4 linked regions of the Homo sapiens genome follow. The protein of the gene in region 1 purifies or fractionates together with the protein of each later gene. This does not show direct contact. Each region holds a gene or a part of one and is shown on either strand. Other genes may lie near its edges.

Region 1 (4,281 bases):
TTTCTCCACTCCCCCACGAGACAACCAAAGGAAGCCTGTTATGAGACCTGAGTCAGGTCACATAAAAGTCAAAGTCCGAAGTCCTCCCCACAGCCCACACAATCTGGCACCCATCGCTTACCCTCCCCCTTGGCCACTCTGCTCCAGCCACACTGGCCTCCTAGCTGCTCTACCAAGTCTGGTCTGCTTCATCCATAGGAGCTTTGCACTAGCTGTTCCCTCTGCCTGAACACTCCCCTGGTGTCCCCATGGCTCACTCCCCTCCTTCATGTCTCTGCTCAAAAGTTGCCTTCTCTGTGAGATCCTCCCTGACCACTGCTGTTGCAATCCACACCCCACCTCCAACTACCCCATCCTCCCTACCTTGCTCGACTTTTTCCATGACATTTATCATCACCACCTAACATTAAAATGTACTTAATTCTTATGTTGACAGCAATCTGCCTCCCCACTAGAATGTCGCGTCCTCAGGGGCAGGGACTACTTGTTCACTGCTGTATTACACACAGCTAAAGGAAGCCAGGCATAGTGAATGTTCAATATTTATTGAAAAAACAAGTCGACTCAAAAACATAGTTTTCCTTTTCAACAGAGGTCGAAAACTCCAAGACAGATAGCTATGTTCATCTGTAAAGGAGGCATTAAAAAGACAGAGAAATACAGAGGAGGCAGAGTCATATACAGTTTGCCGAGGACCCACATCTCTACAGAAGTCAAACTGTTTGCACACAATTCCATGCCCAGAGCATCTAATAAGAGACGATACCCCCACCTGGTGGCTGGGACGGAAACGGCACCTCCCTACAATACAGAACACCCAAAGGACCGTCGCCAAAGCCCTAGGAGTCTTTTGAGCCCAATAATTCAAAAGATAGAAACGTTCATTCATCTAAGTGATGTAGATGTTTTGGTTGGTTTATTAGATGTGTAAGTTTATAAAAACTGATGGGGAAAAAAAGTGCTCCAGGTGAGGATCGAACTCACAACCTCGGCATTGCTCCGCTCGCACTGTCATATAAGTACCGCGCGCTAACCGATTGCGCCACTGGAGCTCCGGCCGCACCCCTGCGCCGGGGTCTTCTTCAGTGGTTCATAGCCACGTGACCTCACCGGAGGGCCCCGCCTTGTGTTATATATGCAAATTAAACATTTTGCATTGACCAATAGGAGACAGTGCATTGCCAGTTCCGGATTCTCACGCCTCGCGGCCCTTGCTGTAAAAGGGAAAAGTCCGCGAGGCGTTTGGAATGTAGGGGTGTCGCCTACCAGAAGGACACGCCTCCTCATGAATATTCAAAACAAGGGGTGGGGTCTTAACCCTTCGCTGGCGGGTCGGCCGGAAGGCAGCCCCTCCCCCCCCCGCAGGCGGGAACAGGATGTGAGCCCCGGCGACAGCGGGGGAGGGGAAGCCCCGGGCGACCGCCCCCCGCCTCACAGCTGGGATCGGACTCTCCCGCCCCAGATGTGGCGCCGCCGCCGTCACACGAGCCCCGTGACACCCAGCCGGGAGCCCGAGGGGTCCAGAGGCTCGGACCCGGGCGTCCGGAATTTCTGCACCGCATCCTGAGAGACCCCGAGGTCCAGACCCCGGCGCCCAGGCTGGAGGACTTGAGCCATCCAGGTGCGCAGCGCCCCCTCCTGGAGCAGCCGGGAGCCCGGACGTCACCCCGCGAGACCCTGGAGGCCGAGCGCCCCGTATCCCCGTTTCAAGAACTCAGGATCCAGGACCGCAGACTCCCTCCAGGGCTCCGATCCCAAGACCCCGCGTTGGAGGAACTTGAGATCCGGACTTCTAAGCGCCCCAACCAGTTTCGGGCTGCAGCGGCCATCGCTTCAAGGGGACCCAGGACTTTGGGACCCCCCTGTGCTCCCACCTGGAGGGAGTTTCATTCCTGCCCCTAGAATTAGGGGAACTCAGAAATCCATCCCCCACCCCACGGCCCTACCTAGAAGACTTAGGAATGTGGGTCCCCAGCGCCGCCATCTGAGACTCCAGAGTCGAGGCTCCTAGCATCCCCTACGTAGAACACTGAGAAATTCCGACTGCGGGACCCCAGTCTCCGAGAGACCCCAGATTCTATTCCTGGAGCCTGAGAGCCCGAAGTTCACGCCCCTGAGTCTGGGCTCCGCACCTCCCTGGGGACCGCGTCGGGGTCGCGCAGGAGCCGGGCTGCCTCGAGCCGGGGCTGGAGGCTCCCCGGGAGGTGAGGGGGGAGGCGAGGGGCCCAGGCGGACTGGGGGAGGGGGCGGCGCCACTGCTGAACAATGAGGGGGCGTGCCGGCGGGGGGCGAGCCGAGGCGCCGGCGGGAGTTGGGGGCTGGAGGGGTGTGGGAAGGCGCTGGGGAGGCTGTGGCTGTGGGGACGGCGATCGGGGTTCGGAGAGACCGGCCGGAGGGGGTGCGAGGGCTCGGGGCCAGCGCCCCAGCGCGCAGCCCTCGGCGGGGGAGGGAGCCGTCTGCAGGACCCTGGCATCCGGTCCCCCAGCCTCCGCCCTCCCCTGGGACCCCGCGGCCTCCCGCCCACGGCTTTTCCCAGCCCTGCCCCTCGCCCTCCGCTCCAGCTGGAGCCCAAACGTTCCCAGGATCCCTAAGCCTCCGGCCCCAGACAAACGGGACTCGCAGCTTCTGCGCCTCCTGCTCCGCTCACTCTTCTTTGTCTCAGCCTTTCCATCTTTTTCGCCAGGTTCTCTCTCCTTGTCCCCTTCTTTCTGTCACTTTGTGCCTCCCCCATTAGTTACTCCCAGGGGCCCCTCCCTGGATTTACACCACGCTCCTAATTCCCAGCCCCCATCTGTGAGTCTGGGCGGCGGAGAGGCCCATGGGGTCCTGATATCCAAGAAGGGGCTCTTTCTGCAGGACTCTGCTGGGCCGCTCAGCCATGCCTGAGGGAGCCCAAGGACTGAGCCTCTCCAAACCTAGCCCAAGCCTCGGGTGTGGCCGAAGAGGTGAAGTGTGTGACTGTGGCACCGTGTGTGAGACTCGGACAGGTGAGCCTAGAGGCAGGGGCGGCGGAGCCTGTGGGGCTTTTATTCCTTGGCAATGCTGTCAAGGCAGGGTGATGGAGACAACCCCAGGCCAACTCGCACAAAGCTCCGAGTCTGGTGGGGAAGGCGGGCCCATCCCCAGGCAATGACAGGCCAGAGGGGGCAGCGCTGGGCAGAGTGGTCAGGGCTGTGATCGTGGATCCTCTGAGCTCGGAAGGTCAGGGGAAGGTTCCTGGAGGTGGGAACATCTCAACTGGGAAGTGGAAGATTAGGGGGAAGGAGTTGCGCAAAGACAAGGAAGAGTATTCTACATGCAAGGAACAGCATGTGCAAAGGCCCAGCGGTGAGAAAAGGCTGCATGTAAGTGACTGAAAGAAGTTGAGTGTCACTGGCATCCAGAGTGTAAGAAGAGGGGTGGCTGTGGGAAGAGAACTGGCTAGAGGGATCTGTGTTGGCCACATTGCCCAGTGCCCTGTGGATCTGAGGAGTTTGGACTTTATCCCCAGGGGCATGAAGGGGTTACACTCACGGGAGTAATACAGTCAGATAGACAAATTAATAAATGTCTACCTAGCTGATTCATGGAGGTGGATTAGAGAAATGGAGGCCAGAAGTCCAGAGAGGACCCTGATGGGAGAGGATGGGACTGGACCAAGACAGGGCAGTGGGGAGAGGAGGAAGGAGCCTGTGGGAAAGCTGTTGGACAGGTGTGGGTGAGGGTGTGGGCTGAACGCATGAAAGGCTGTGGAAGTCCGTGCATGGGGAGATTTCTCTGACCTCCTGTTCCACACCCCAGCAGCTCCTGCAGCCCCCACCATGGCCTCCCCCCGAGGTTCTGGGAGCTCCACATCCCTGAGCACAGTGGGCTCTGAGGGGGATCCAGCCCCTGGGCCCACTCCAGCCTGCTCAGCCTCCAGGCCAGAGCCCCTTCCAGGGCCTCCCATCCGCCTACATCTCTCTCCGGTGGGGATCCCAGGTTCAGCCAGACCCTCAAGGCTGGAGCGTGTGGCCCGGGAGATCGTGGAGACAGAACGGGCCTATGTCAGGGACCTCCGCAGCATCGTGGAGGTAAGGCGGGCAGACACCAGAGGGCAGTGGGTACCCAGGCCAGCCCCTTGGCCCCCATAACCCCAGTCATCCCAACAGGACTACCTGGGCCCTCTGCTGGACGGCGGGGTCCTGGGGCTGAGCGTGGAGCAGGTGGGCACGCTGTTTGCCAACATTGAGGACATCTACGAGTTCAGCAGGTCAGGGGCAGGGGGGACAGGCAGGGGGCATTGATTGGTTGGAGGGTCTA
Region 2 (3,565 bases), on another chromosome or scaffold:
TGCCTATGTCCTGAATGGTATTGCCTATGTTTTCTTCAGAGTTTTTATGATTTTAGGTCTTATGTTTAAATCTTTAATCCATCTTGAATTAATTTTTGTATAAGGTGTAAGGAAGGGGTCCAGTTTCCGTTTTCTGCATATGGCTAGCCAGTTTTCCCAGCACCATTTATTAAATAGGGAATCCTTTCCCCATTGCTTGTTTTTGTCAGGTTTGTCAAAGATCAGATGGTTGTAGACGTGTGGTATTATTTCTGAGGGCTCTGTTCTGTTCCATTGGTCTATAGCTCTGTTTTGGTACAATACCATGCCGTTTTGGTTACTGTAGCCTTGTAGTATAGTTTGAAGTCAGGTAGCATGAGGCCTCAAGCCTTGTTCTTTTTGCTTAGGATTGTCTTGGCTATACGGGCTCTTTTTTGGTTCCATATGAAATTTAAGGTAGTTTTTTCTAATTCTGTGAAGAAAGTCAATGGTAGCTTGATGGGAATAGCATTGAATCTGTAAATTACTTTGGGCAGTATGGCCATTTTCACAATATTGATTTTTCCTATCTATGAGCATGGAATGTTTTACCATTTGTTTGTGTCCTCTCTTCTTTCCTTGAGCAGTGGTTTGTAGTTCTCCTTGAAGAGGTCCTTCACATCCGTTGTAAGTTGTATTCCTAGGTATTTTATTCTCTTTGTAGCAATTGTGAATGGGAATTCACTCATGATTTGGTTCTCTGTCTGTTAGTGGTGTATAGGAATGCTTGTGATTTTTGCCCATTGATTTTGTATCCTGAGACTTTACTGAAGTTGCTTGTCACCATAAGGGATTATGGGCTGAGATGATGGGGTTTTCTAAATATACAGTCATCATCTGCAAACAGAGATAATTTGACTTCCCCTCTTCCTATCTGAATCCCCTTTATTTCTTTCTCTTGCCTGATTGCCCTGGCCAGACCTTCCAATACTATGTTGAATAGGAGAGGTGAGAGAGGGCATCCTTATCCTGTGCCGATTTTTGAAGGGAATGGTATCGGCTGTGGGTTTGTCATAAATAGCTCTTATTTTGAGATACATTTCATCAATACCTAGTTTATTGAGAGTTTTTAGCATGAAGGGATGTTGAATTTTATTGAAGGCCTTTTTTGCATCTATTGAGATAATCATGCGGTTTTTGTCATTGGTTCTGTTTATGTGATAGATTATGTTTTATTGATTTGAGTATGTTGAACCAGCCCTGCATCCCAGGGATGAAGCCGACTTGATCGTGGTAGATGAGCTTTTTAATGTGCTACTGGATTCGGTTTGCCAGTATTTTATTGAGGATTTTCGCATCGATGTTCATCAGGGATATTGGCCTGACATTTTCTTTTTTTTGTTGTGTCTCTGCCAGGTTTTTGTATTAGGGTGATGCTGGCCTCAAAAAATGAGTTAGGGAGGAGTCCCTCTTTTTCTATTGTTTGGAAGTTTCAGAAGGAATAGTACCAGTTCCTCTTTCTACCTGTGGTAGAATTCAGCTGTGAATCCATCTGGTCCTGGGCTTTTTTTTGGTTGGTAGGATATTATTGCCTCAATTTCAGAACTTTTTATTGGTCTGTTCATTAAACCAGAGTTCTTCCTGGTTTAATCTTGGGAGGGCGTATGTGTCCAGGAGTTTATCCATTTCTTCCAGATTTTCTAGTTTATTTGCGTGGAGGTGTTTATAGTGTTCTCTGATGGTAGTTTGTATTTCTGTGGGATCAGTGGTGATCCTTTATTGTGTCTATTTGATTCTTCCCGCTTTTCTTCTTTATTATTCTGGCTAGTGGTCTATCTATTTTGTTAATCTTTTCGAAGAACCAGCTTCTGGATTCATTGATTTTTTGAAGAGTTTTTCGTGTCTCTATCTCCTTCAGTTCTGCTCTGATCTTAGTTATTTCTTGTGTTCTGCTAGCTTTTGAATTTGTTTGCTCTTGCTTCTCTAGTTCTTTTAATTGTGATGTTAGGGTGTCGATTTTAGATCTTTCCTGCTTTCTCATGTGGGCACTTAGTGCTATAAATTTCCCTCTAAACACTACTTTAGCTGTGTCCCAGAGATTGTGGTACGTTATGTCTTTGTTCTCATTGGTTGCAAAGAACTTATTTATTTCTGCCCTAATTTCGTTATTTACCCGGTAGTCATTCAGGAGTTGTTCAGTTTCCATGTAGTTGTGCAGTTTTGAGTGAGTTTCTTAATCCTGAGTTCTAATTTGATTGCACTGTGGTCTGACAGACTGTTATGATTTCCATTCTTTTGCATTTGCTGAGGAATGTTTTACTTCCAATTATGTGGTCAATTTTAGAGTAAGTGCACTGTGGTACTGAGAATAATGTATATTCTGTTGATTTGGGGTGGAGAGTTCTCTAGATGTCTTTCAGGTCTGCTTGGTCCAGAGCTGAGTTCAAGTCCTGAATATCCTTGTTAATTTTCTGTCTTGTTGATCTAATATTGACAGTGGGGTGTTAAAGTCTCCCACTGTTATTATGTGGGAGTCTAGGTCTCTTTGTGGGTTTCTAAGAACTTGCATTTTGAATCTGGGTGCTCCTGTATTGGGTGCATATCTATTTAGGATAGTTAGCTCTTGTTGTTGCATTGAACCCTTTACCATTATGTAATGCCCTTTGTCTTTTTTTCATGCTTATTGATTTAAAGTCTGTTTTATCTGAGACTAGGATTGCAACCCCTGCCTTTTTTTTGCTTTCCATTTGCTTGGTAAATCTTCCTCCATCCCTTTATTTTGAGCCTTTGTGTGTCTTTGCATGTGAGATGCGACTCCTGAATACCGCACACTGATGGGTCTTAACTCTGTCTAATTTGCCACTCTGTGTCTTTCAACTGGGGCATTTAGCCCATTTACATTTAAGGTTAATATTGTTATGTGTGAATTTGATCCTGTTATTATGATGCTAGCTGGTTATTTTGCCTGTTAGTTGATGCAGTTTCTTCATAGTGTCGATGGTCTTTACATTTTGGTATGTTTTTGCAGTGGCTGGTACCGGTTTTTCCTTTCCATATTTAATGCTTCCTTCAGGAGCTCTTGTAAGGCAGGCCTTGTGGTGATAAAATCCCTCTACATTTGCCTGTCTGTAAAGGATTTTATTTCTCCTTCACTTATGAAGCTTAGTTTGACTGGTTATGAAATTCTGGGTTGAAAATTCTTTTCTTTAAGAATGTTGAATGTTAGTCCCCACTCTCTTCTGGCTTGTAGGGTTTCTGCCGAGAGATCTGCTGTTAGTCTGATGGGCTTCCCTTTGTGGGTAACCCGACCTTTCTCTCTGGCTGCGCTTAACATTTTTTCCCTCATTTTAACCTTGGTGAATCTGACGATTATGTGTCTTGGCGTTGCTCTTCTCAAGGGCATCTTTGTGATGTTTTCTGTATTTCCTGGATTTGAATGTTGGCCTGTCTTGCTAGGTTGGGGAAGTTCTCCTGGATAATAATCCTGAAATGTGTTTTCCAACTTGGTTCCATTCGTCAGTTTCAGGTATACCAGTCAAACGTAGGTTTGGTCTTTTCACATAGTCCCATATTTCTTGGGAGGCTTTGTTTGTTCCTTTTCATTCTG
Region 3 (3,565 bases), on another chromosome or scaffold:
AATTTCTCTAATCCTCATTTGTCACATTCACTAAATGGGTAAAATTATAGTACCTCATAGGATTCAGTGAGTTAATACACGTAAAACACTTAGACTAGTGAATGGCACAAAGTAAGTGCTCAATAAGTGTTTGCATGATAAATCATACACATACGTTTAATAGAAATGTAAAACATTTGTAATTTTTTTTTCACTTATTATTATTATTTATTATTAGTTTTTGAGACAGAGTCTCACTCTGTCGCCAAGGCTGGAGTGCAGTGGCACAATCTTGGCTCACTGCAGCCTCCACCTCCTGGGTTCAAGTGATTCTCCTGCCTCAGCCTCCCGAGTAGCTGGGATTACAGGCGTGTGCCACGATGCCCAGCCAATTTTTGTATTTTTAGTAGAGATGGGGTTTCACCATGTTGGGCAGGCTGGTCTCGAACTCCTGACCTCAGGTGATTCGCCCACCTCAGCCTCCCAAAGTGCTGGGATTACAGGTGTGAGCCACCATGCCCAGCCTATTTTTTTCACTCAACATTATATTGTGAATAGCTTTTCATGTTCTTGGAATTTTTTTTTTAAGAGCCAGGGTCCTGCTGTGTCTCCCAGGCTGGAGTGCAGTGGTGCTATCTCAGGTCACTGCAAGCTCCGCCTCCCAGGTTCACACCAGCCTCCTGAGTAGCTGGGACTACTGGTGCCTGCCGCCACGCCTGGCTAATTTTTTGTATTTTTAGTAGAGATGGGGTTTCACCGTGTTAGCCAGGATGGTCTCGATCCCCCGACCTCGTGATCTGCCCGCCTTGGCCTCCCAAAGTGCAGAATTGTTTTTTTTTTAAGAGCCAGGGTCCTGCTGTGTCTCCCAGGCTGAAGTGCAGTGGCTGTTCACAGGTGTGATCTTCACATACTACATCCCTGAACTCCTGGGCTCAAATGATACTCCCTGTCTCAGCCTCCTGAGTTGCTGGGACTACAGGGACACGTCACTGTGTCTTGCAAAACTTTTCTTTAAGGTCTACATAGAATTTCATTGCCAGAAAACATCATTATTTCTTTTTTCTTTTTTTAAAAAATTCTCCCAGATCCTGAGAAATACCATAATTTCATTTACCAATCCAGTCCTATTGGGCATTTAAGTTGTTTCCATTTTTAATTGGCTTTTATTTTGACTAATATTTTTTTCTTATCCAAGAATTGCAGAGAGGAGAATAGCCAATTTCAAGGTAGTTTAGCATTCTGTAGAGATATTTTTGGAGTTATAATTCGTTAGAAGACTGAATTCTAGTTCAGAGTTTGCTCCTTTTTCTGGGACTCTATAAAATGATCAGGTTGGACTAAATCTGTTGGGCTCTTTCTGTGCCTTCCTCGTCCTGTTATTGTGCAGGAGCTGAGCTCATTAAAAGTCACACACAAATCTCTAGTATTGATCCCTGTAGCCATCAGGTAGGGTCTGAGGCTGTCAGAGTACCTGGCTGGTCACCTCTAGTTGCAAGCAGCTTCATCTGACTCTAGTTTCTCCGGTTTACCCAGTATACTCTCTGGTACAAATACAATACTCTGTGGGTACCTACCTGTGAAAGGTTTGGAAGTACAGATCTATGAGAATGTATTAAGGAACACTGTTTCTCGTGGCAGATATGTGTCGTTTAGGTCCTTGTTAGATTGTTGATAATTCTTCATTCTTGGATTTTTTAGCATGGCTTCTCGCTGTTTCTGGGATGCTGACACTGACAACTATACTCATGATGTTTTCATGAATGTAAGTGTATTTGGAAACCTCTTTTCCCTTTCTAAGAACGTGGGCACCGCAAATCAAACTATTTACTGTTGATTGGGATGGAAAGACACTGCTGTCTTAGTCATTCATCTTTGACTTGTGAATGAAATGATTTTACTGTTAGTTTTTGTGTTACTAAAGCAGAAACCTAGAGTGCTGCTTATAGGCAAGGAAACTTACATGTTTACATATGACATAATTTTTCATGGGTTTGAATTTCTGAATAGCATATTATTTAGTTAGCATATTATTTAAACATTATTTTTAGCCACTTCCTCCATAAATCAGTGTTCTAAAACTCAATCCTGATAATCCTTATTAAAGTAATAATTTATAACTAAAATTTTAAAATCACTTATTTGTTCATTTGAACCAATCACACTTTGCTAAGTTGCAAACAAATGTGGATGGCAGGGATTCCATGAGCAAAGGTCATTTTTTTTTAGTAGTAAAATTTATTACTTTATCTTAAAGCCATTTATTAAAATTAAGCAAAAATAAAGAGGAATCTTTAAAAAGATGTTTCAGGCCAGGCGCGGTGGCTCATGCCTATAATCCCAGCACTTTGGGAGGCCAAGGAGGGCGGATCACCTGAGGTCAGGAGTTCAAGACCAGCCTGGCCAACATGGTGAAAGCCTGTCTCTACTAAAAATATAAAAATTAGCCGAGCATGGTGGCGGGCACCTGTAATCCCAGCTACTCAGGAGGCTGAGGCAGGAGAATCGCTTGAACCCCGGAGGCAGAGGTTGCAGTGAGCTGAGATTGTGCCACTGTATTCCAGCCTGGGTGACACACACACACACATAAAAGAGGTTTCATTGAAGTTATTATTTTATATTTACTCCAGAAAGGATTGCATCCTCTATTCGTCTACTCCCAGGTTGTGAATACATAGAGTCAGAGTTAGAGTAGAACAGAAACTAGATTGAGTAAATTAAGAGAGTGAGGCCAGGTGGGGTGGCTCACGCTTGTAATCTCAGCACTTTGGGAGGCCGAGGCATGTGGATCACTTGAGGTCAAGAGTTTGAGAGCAGCCTGGCCAACATTGTGAAACCTCTTCTCTGCTAAAAACACACACACAAAAAATTAGCCGGGTGTGGTGGTGCACGCCTGTAATCCCAGCTACTTGGGAGGCTGAGGCAGGAGAATTGCTTGAACCTGGTGGCGGAGGTTCCAGTGAGCTGAGATCGCACCACTGCATTCCAGCCTGGGCAGCAGAGCAAGACTCTGTCTCAAAAATTAAAAAAAGAAAAAAGAAAAAAGTAAAAAGAAATAAGAGGGGGATTCCATCTCCAGTTCTGTCACTTTCTAATTGAATGACTTCAGGTAAGTCATTGGATTTTTCTCACATTGTATCAGTGACATTAGGAAGCTGAAGTACATTTTCCCAAAGACTGGCTGTGACTGCCTAAGGATCATCTGGGAAGTTGTTTAAAATATAGACGCTGGGTCCCTATTCAAATAGATTCTGATCAAATAGGCCAGGGGTTAGATCAGTGAATCAGAATATTTAAAAAGTTCCCCATGATTCTGCTGACTGCCAGATATGGACACTGCTTATGTAGATGATTTTAAGGTAGCTTTTAGCTCTAAAATTCTATGGTCTCACCAAGGTTTTATTTTTATTTTTATTATTTTTTGAGACAGAATTTTGCTCTTGTTGCCCAGGATGGAGTGCAATGGCACAATCTCAGCTCACCACAACCTCCACCTCCCGGGTTGAAGTGTCCTGCCTCAGCCTTCCGAGTAGCTGGGATTACAGGCATGCACCACCACACCTGGCTAATTTTGTAATTTTAGTAGAGA
Region 4 (3,565 bases), on another chromosome or scaffold:
AGTTGATGGCTTAAATCTGATAAAATTGTTCATCATGTCGTTTATGAATGTACAGTGCTTTGCACTTTATAAAACACTTTCCAATCAGATACTCCATTTGAATCTCAAAGGTCCCCTGAGAATGAGGCCTGCTGCTGCTGTCACCTTTATTTTAACCCTTGCCCAAGGTCATATAGCTAATTAGGGATGTGTTCAAAATTACAACCCAGAACTTTTGCTTCTTGGTGGTGACGTGTGACTTTACCCTGCTGTTGAGCCAGTCTGGGTTAATTGGGAATGGGGCAAGAGTTAGATCGGATTTGATTTCAGAACTATGCTGAAGATGCTGGATGATGGGGATTTTGTACACGGGTAGAGTGTAACTCATAAGAACTGTGTAGCCCCCTTAGCACAGATATTTGCTGCATTAAGCAGAAAAAAGACAGGGAGATAGAAAATGGCAGGTAGCAGGTAAAACCCGGGGTTGGAGCCTGCTTACGGTGAACCAGAAACTGGCTTGGCCCTGAGCGTACAAAGATGAGGTGTACATGGTCCCTGCCTTTGAGGAGCACACAAGTGTGTGGTGTGTGTGAGGGGGAGGGAAAAAGGTGGAGTGGGGCATGTCCGTGTATTAAGTGCTTTTACAGGGTAAGTTTTGGCTGCTCTTCACTGAGAAGGCTCACCCTCAGGGAAACCACTATAGAGAGGGGGGTGTCTGAGCTGAACCTCTAGGAATGAGTAGGAGTTGTCCAGGTGGAAGAAGGACAGGTGAGAGAAGGACCTATTAGCAAGATAGTAGCAGATGCAGAAGCAGGGAGAAGCTGCTTTATTCTCCAGGCTGTGTTTTGAAAGGCCAGCCATGAAGAGGACCATGGAAAATGGAGAAAGAAGAGGGCCTTTACTTTTTAATAAGTAAGGTTTAAATTAATCTCGATAGGGGCCGTTAAGTGGTTCTGTAGAGATTCACAGGAGAATAAGGCTGGGTAGGGTCTCTAGCGTCATCTCTGTGGGAGTAGTTATTTGGATGGTAATGCAGGAGGCATAGTACCACTTTTAGTCTGAGTGAACCTGGGACTTTGACCCTGGGCCGCGATTAGAGGATCCAAGCTGAGTATGTTCATTGGTGGGTGGGACTTTTCCTGGAATCTGGCTTTGGAGGGCTGTGCTTTGCTAGAAGAAACTTAGTAGAGTGAGGAAGGGGAAGATATAATCATGTTGATGCATGCAGGAAGCTAGTATCTGGGTGAAAATCTGTTGGCTTGAGGGAACATATGAGGCGGAGAACCTGAGGGCAAGGGGAAGGGTGGAAGGATTTCAAGTGTGTTGTGGAAGTCTGCTGTAGGCTGCCTGGAGGCTTGGAGAAAAAGGCTGGTGCATTCTAAATGTTGGTCACATCAGTGAGATTGGTAGGTGGATAGGTAGCTGTAGGTAGTGTAGGGATTAATGTTTGGAAGCAGGTAAACCACAGAGTTGAGGCTGGAAAATGTTTCCTTTCCTATCATTCTTTTTTAATAGTAATATAATTTTGAAATATTTTCAAATGCTTACCACCTGTTATGTAATTATCATATTGATTCATTAAAGTAGGTTTTTTGATTACCAGTCTCATTTTGCAGATGAGAAAATGAATTTGGTGAAATAAGGTTACACAACTACCAGGAGGCATTCAAACTTCTGCCTCATTCTTATAGCCTCTTCACCACTCTTTTCTATGCCCACATGCATGAAAAGCTCAAATCGACATTGCTTGTCTGTGTTCTTCCCTGGAATTTAATTCAGCCCACATTCGTGGGGCCCTAGTGGGGTCACAATTGAGGATTCACATGGACAAACGGGCTTCTCAGTCCCACACTGGTGCTGTTCTAGCCCCTTTTTCTCTCTTAAGATGCTACCTTGGGTGTCGTCTCTCCCCAAACCTAACTGGAAAGGACTAAGCCTCTCTAGCAAATCATCTGCCTCTTTCAACAGAGCTCGCTTCCCCAGTCCCTTGTTGTGTTAAGAATGTGATTTATTCTTGTAGAGAGGCAGTTAGGGTCATAAAGTAACAGAGTGGGGAAGTGACAGTCTTGAACTCAGTCATTACCTTTGATCTCACGGCTCCGGTAACGGTGCTATATGTTCTCTGGTGCTGAACCATATAGCTTCTGCGTCCTCTAGGAAAGCTTTCTGGCTCAGGGCTCTGAGGGAACACCTACAATCCTTCCTATCACCTACCTGAGTCAGATGGGTCATCTACATTTTGGCCACTCACAGATAAAAGCATTAATAATCTGTTTATTGTGTTGTGAGAGGAGACAGACCCCAGGATGTTCAGTAGCTGTTTGGTGAATGAACAATGTTTATGGACACAAATAAGCATGCATCACCACTTCATCTTACATATTTGTGTGTCTGCCTCCTCTCCACTTTAAAATAAGCTGCTTGAGGATTGCAGTGATGTCTGCTTGTTGATGGCTGTATTCCCAATGCCCAGAAGAATGCCTGACACATGGTAGGCACTCCAGAAATACTTGCTTGATGAAGAGAGGGAGTAAAATAGTTCACTGCAGCCACAGGATAGCAATCATGGGGGAGCGGGACTGTTTTTACTGCCCCAGAACCTTGAGCCAGTTGTTGCTGGCACAGGTGGCATTGGGCAGTCCTGCCAGCAGAGTGAAGATTGAGGGACTGGGAGTGTAGAGCTGAGGGTTGTGAGATTAACTATGCCAAGGTTAATTGCAGTTGCAACTGCTCTTTCACTTTTCCCTCACACAGACAGGTGGTCTGGAACAGTCCTCTGTTTTCTTCTCTTTTGAGACAGAGTATTTTTTTGTTTGTTTGTTTGGTTTGTTTGTTTTGAGACACAGTCACACTTTGTCACACAAGCTGGAGTGCAGTGGCGCAATCTTGGCTCACTGCAACCTCCACCCCCTGGGTTCAAGTGATTCTCCTGCCTCAGCCTCCCAAGTAGCTGGGATTACAGGTGCCCGCCACCACTCCCGGCTAATTTTTGTATTTTTAATAGAGACGGAGTTTCACCATGTTGGCCAGGCGGTCTTGAACTCCTGACCTCGTGATCCACCTGCCTTGGTCTCCCAAAGTGCTGGGATTACAGGCGTGAGCCACCACGCTCAGCCTTGAGATGGAGTTTTACTCTTGTTGCCCAGGCTGTAGTGCAATGGCCCGATCTCGGCTCACTGCAACCTCCGCCTCCCAGGTTCCAGCGATTCTCCTACCTCAGCCTCCCAAGTAGCTGGGATTACAGGTGCCTGCTGGCACGCCTGGCTAATTTTTGTATTTTTGTGGAGATGGGGTTTCACCATGTTGGCCAGGCTGGTCTTGAACTCCTGACCTCAGGTGATCCGCTGGCCTTGGCCTCCCAAAGTGCTGGGATTACAGGAGTGAACCACTGTGCCCAGCCCTCTGTTTTCTTAATCCATGCCTTTTCTTATGCTGTTTTCTCTACCTGGAGTTTCCAGCCTTTCTGTCTCTGCCTGTTGTAAACCTGTGATTCTAGGATCAATATCAAAATCTACCTTGTGCCATGAAGCAATTTCCAGACTCCTTAACCCTTCCAACCCACACGTATCTGTGATCAGATACAACT

Evidence for each region.
Region 2: the proteins of PLEKHG2 (region 1) and DCK purify together in Homo sapiens (affinity purification with mass spectrometry; one large-scale study listed by BioGRID and IntAct). This does not show direct contact.
Region 3: the proteins of PLEKHG2 (region 1) and DYNLT2B purify together in Homo sapiens (affinity purification with mass spectrometry; one large-scale study listed by BioGRID and IntAct). This does not show direct contact.
Region 4: the proteins of PLEKHG2 (region 1) and LPP purify together in Homo sapiens (affinity purification with mass spectrometry; one large-scale study listed by BioGRID and IntAct). This does not show direct contact.

The regions. Positions count from the first base shown.
Region 1 is NC_000019.10:39,411,209-39,415,489, forward strand, and holds the start of PLEKHG2 (pleckstrin homology domain-containing family G member 2), read left to right. Parts: upstream 1-1,460; 5' UTR 1,461-2,204; intron 2,205-2,570; exon of another isoform or gene 2,571-2,683; intron 2,684-2,856; 5' UTR 2,857-2,878; coding exon 2,879-2,987; intron 2,988-3,783; coding exon 3,784-4,052; intron 4,053-4,130; coding exon 4,131-4,231; intron 4,232-4,281. UniProt on the Homo sapiens protein: May be a transforming oncogene with exchange activity for CDC42. May be a guanine-nucleotide exchange factor (GEF) for RAC1 and CDC42. Activated by the binding to subunits beta and gamma of the heterotrimeric guanine nucleotide-binding protein (G protein).
Region 2 is NC_000004.12:71,000,099-71,003,663, forward strand, and holds part of DCK (deoxycytidine kinase), read left to right. Parts: intron 1-3,565. UniProt on the Homo sapiens protein: Phosphorylates the deoxyribonucleosides deoxycytidine, deoxyguanosine and deoxyadenosine. Has broad substrate specificity, and does not display selectivity based on the chirality of the substrate.
Region 3 is NC_000003.12:196,294,182-196,297,746, reverse strand, and holds part of DYNLT2B (dynein light chain Tctex-type protein 2B), read left to right. Parts: intron 1-1,677; coding exon 1,678-1,741; intron 1,742-3,565. UniProt on the Homo sapiens protein: Acts as one of several non-catalytic accessory components of the cytoplasmic dynein 2 complex (dynein-2 complex), a motor protein complex that drives the movement of cargos along microtubules within cilia and flagella in concert with the intraflagellar transport (IFT) system.
Region 4 is NC_000003.12:188,157,115-188,160,679, forward strand, and holds part of LPP (lipoma-preferred partner), read left to right. Parts: intron 1-3,565. UniProt on the Homo sapiens protein: May play a structural role at sites of cell adhesion in maintaining cell shape and motility. In addition to these structural functions, it may also be implicated in signaling events and activation of gene transcription.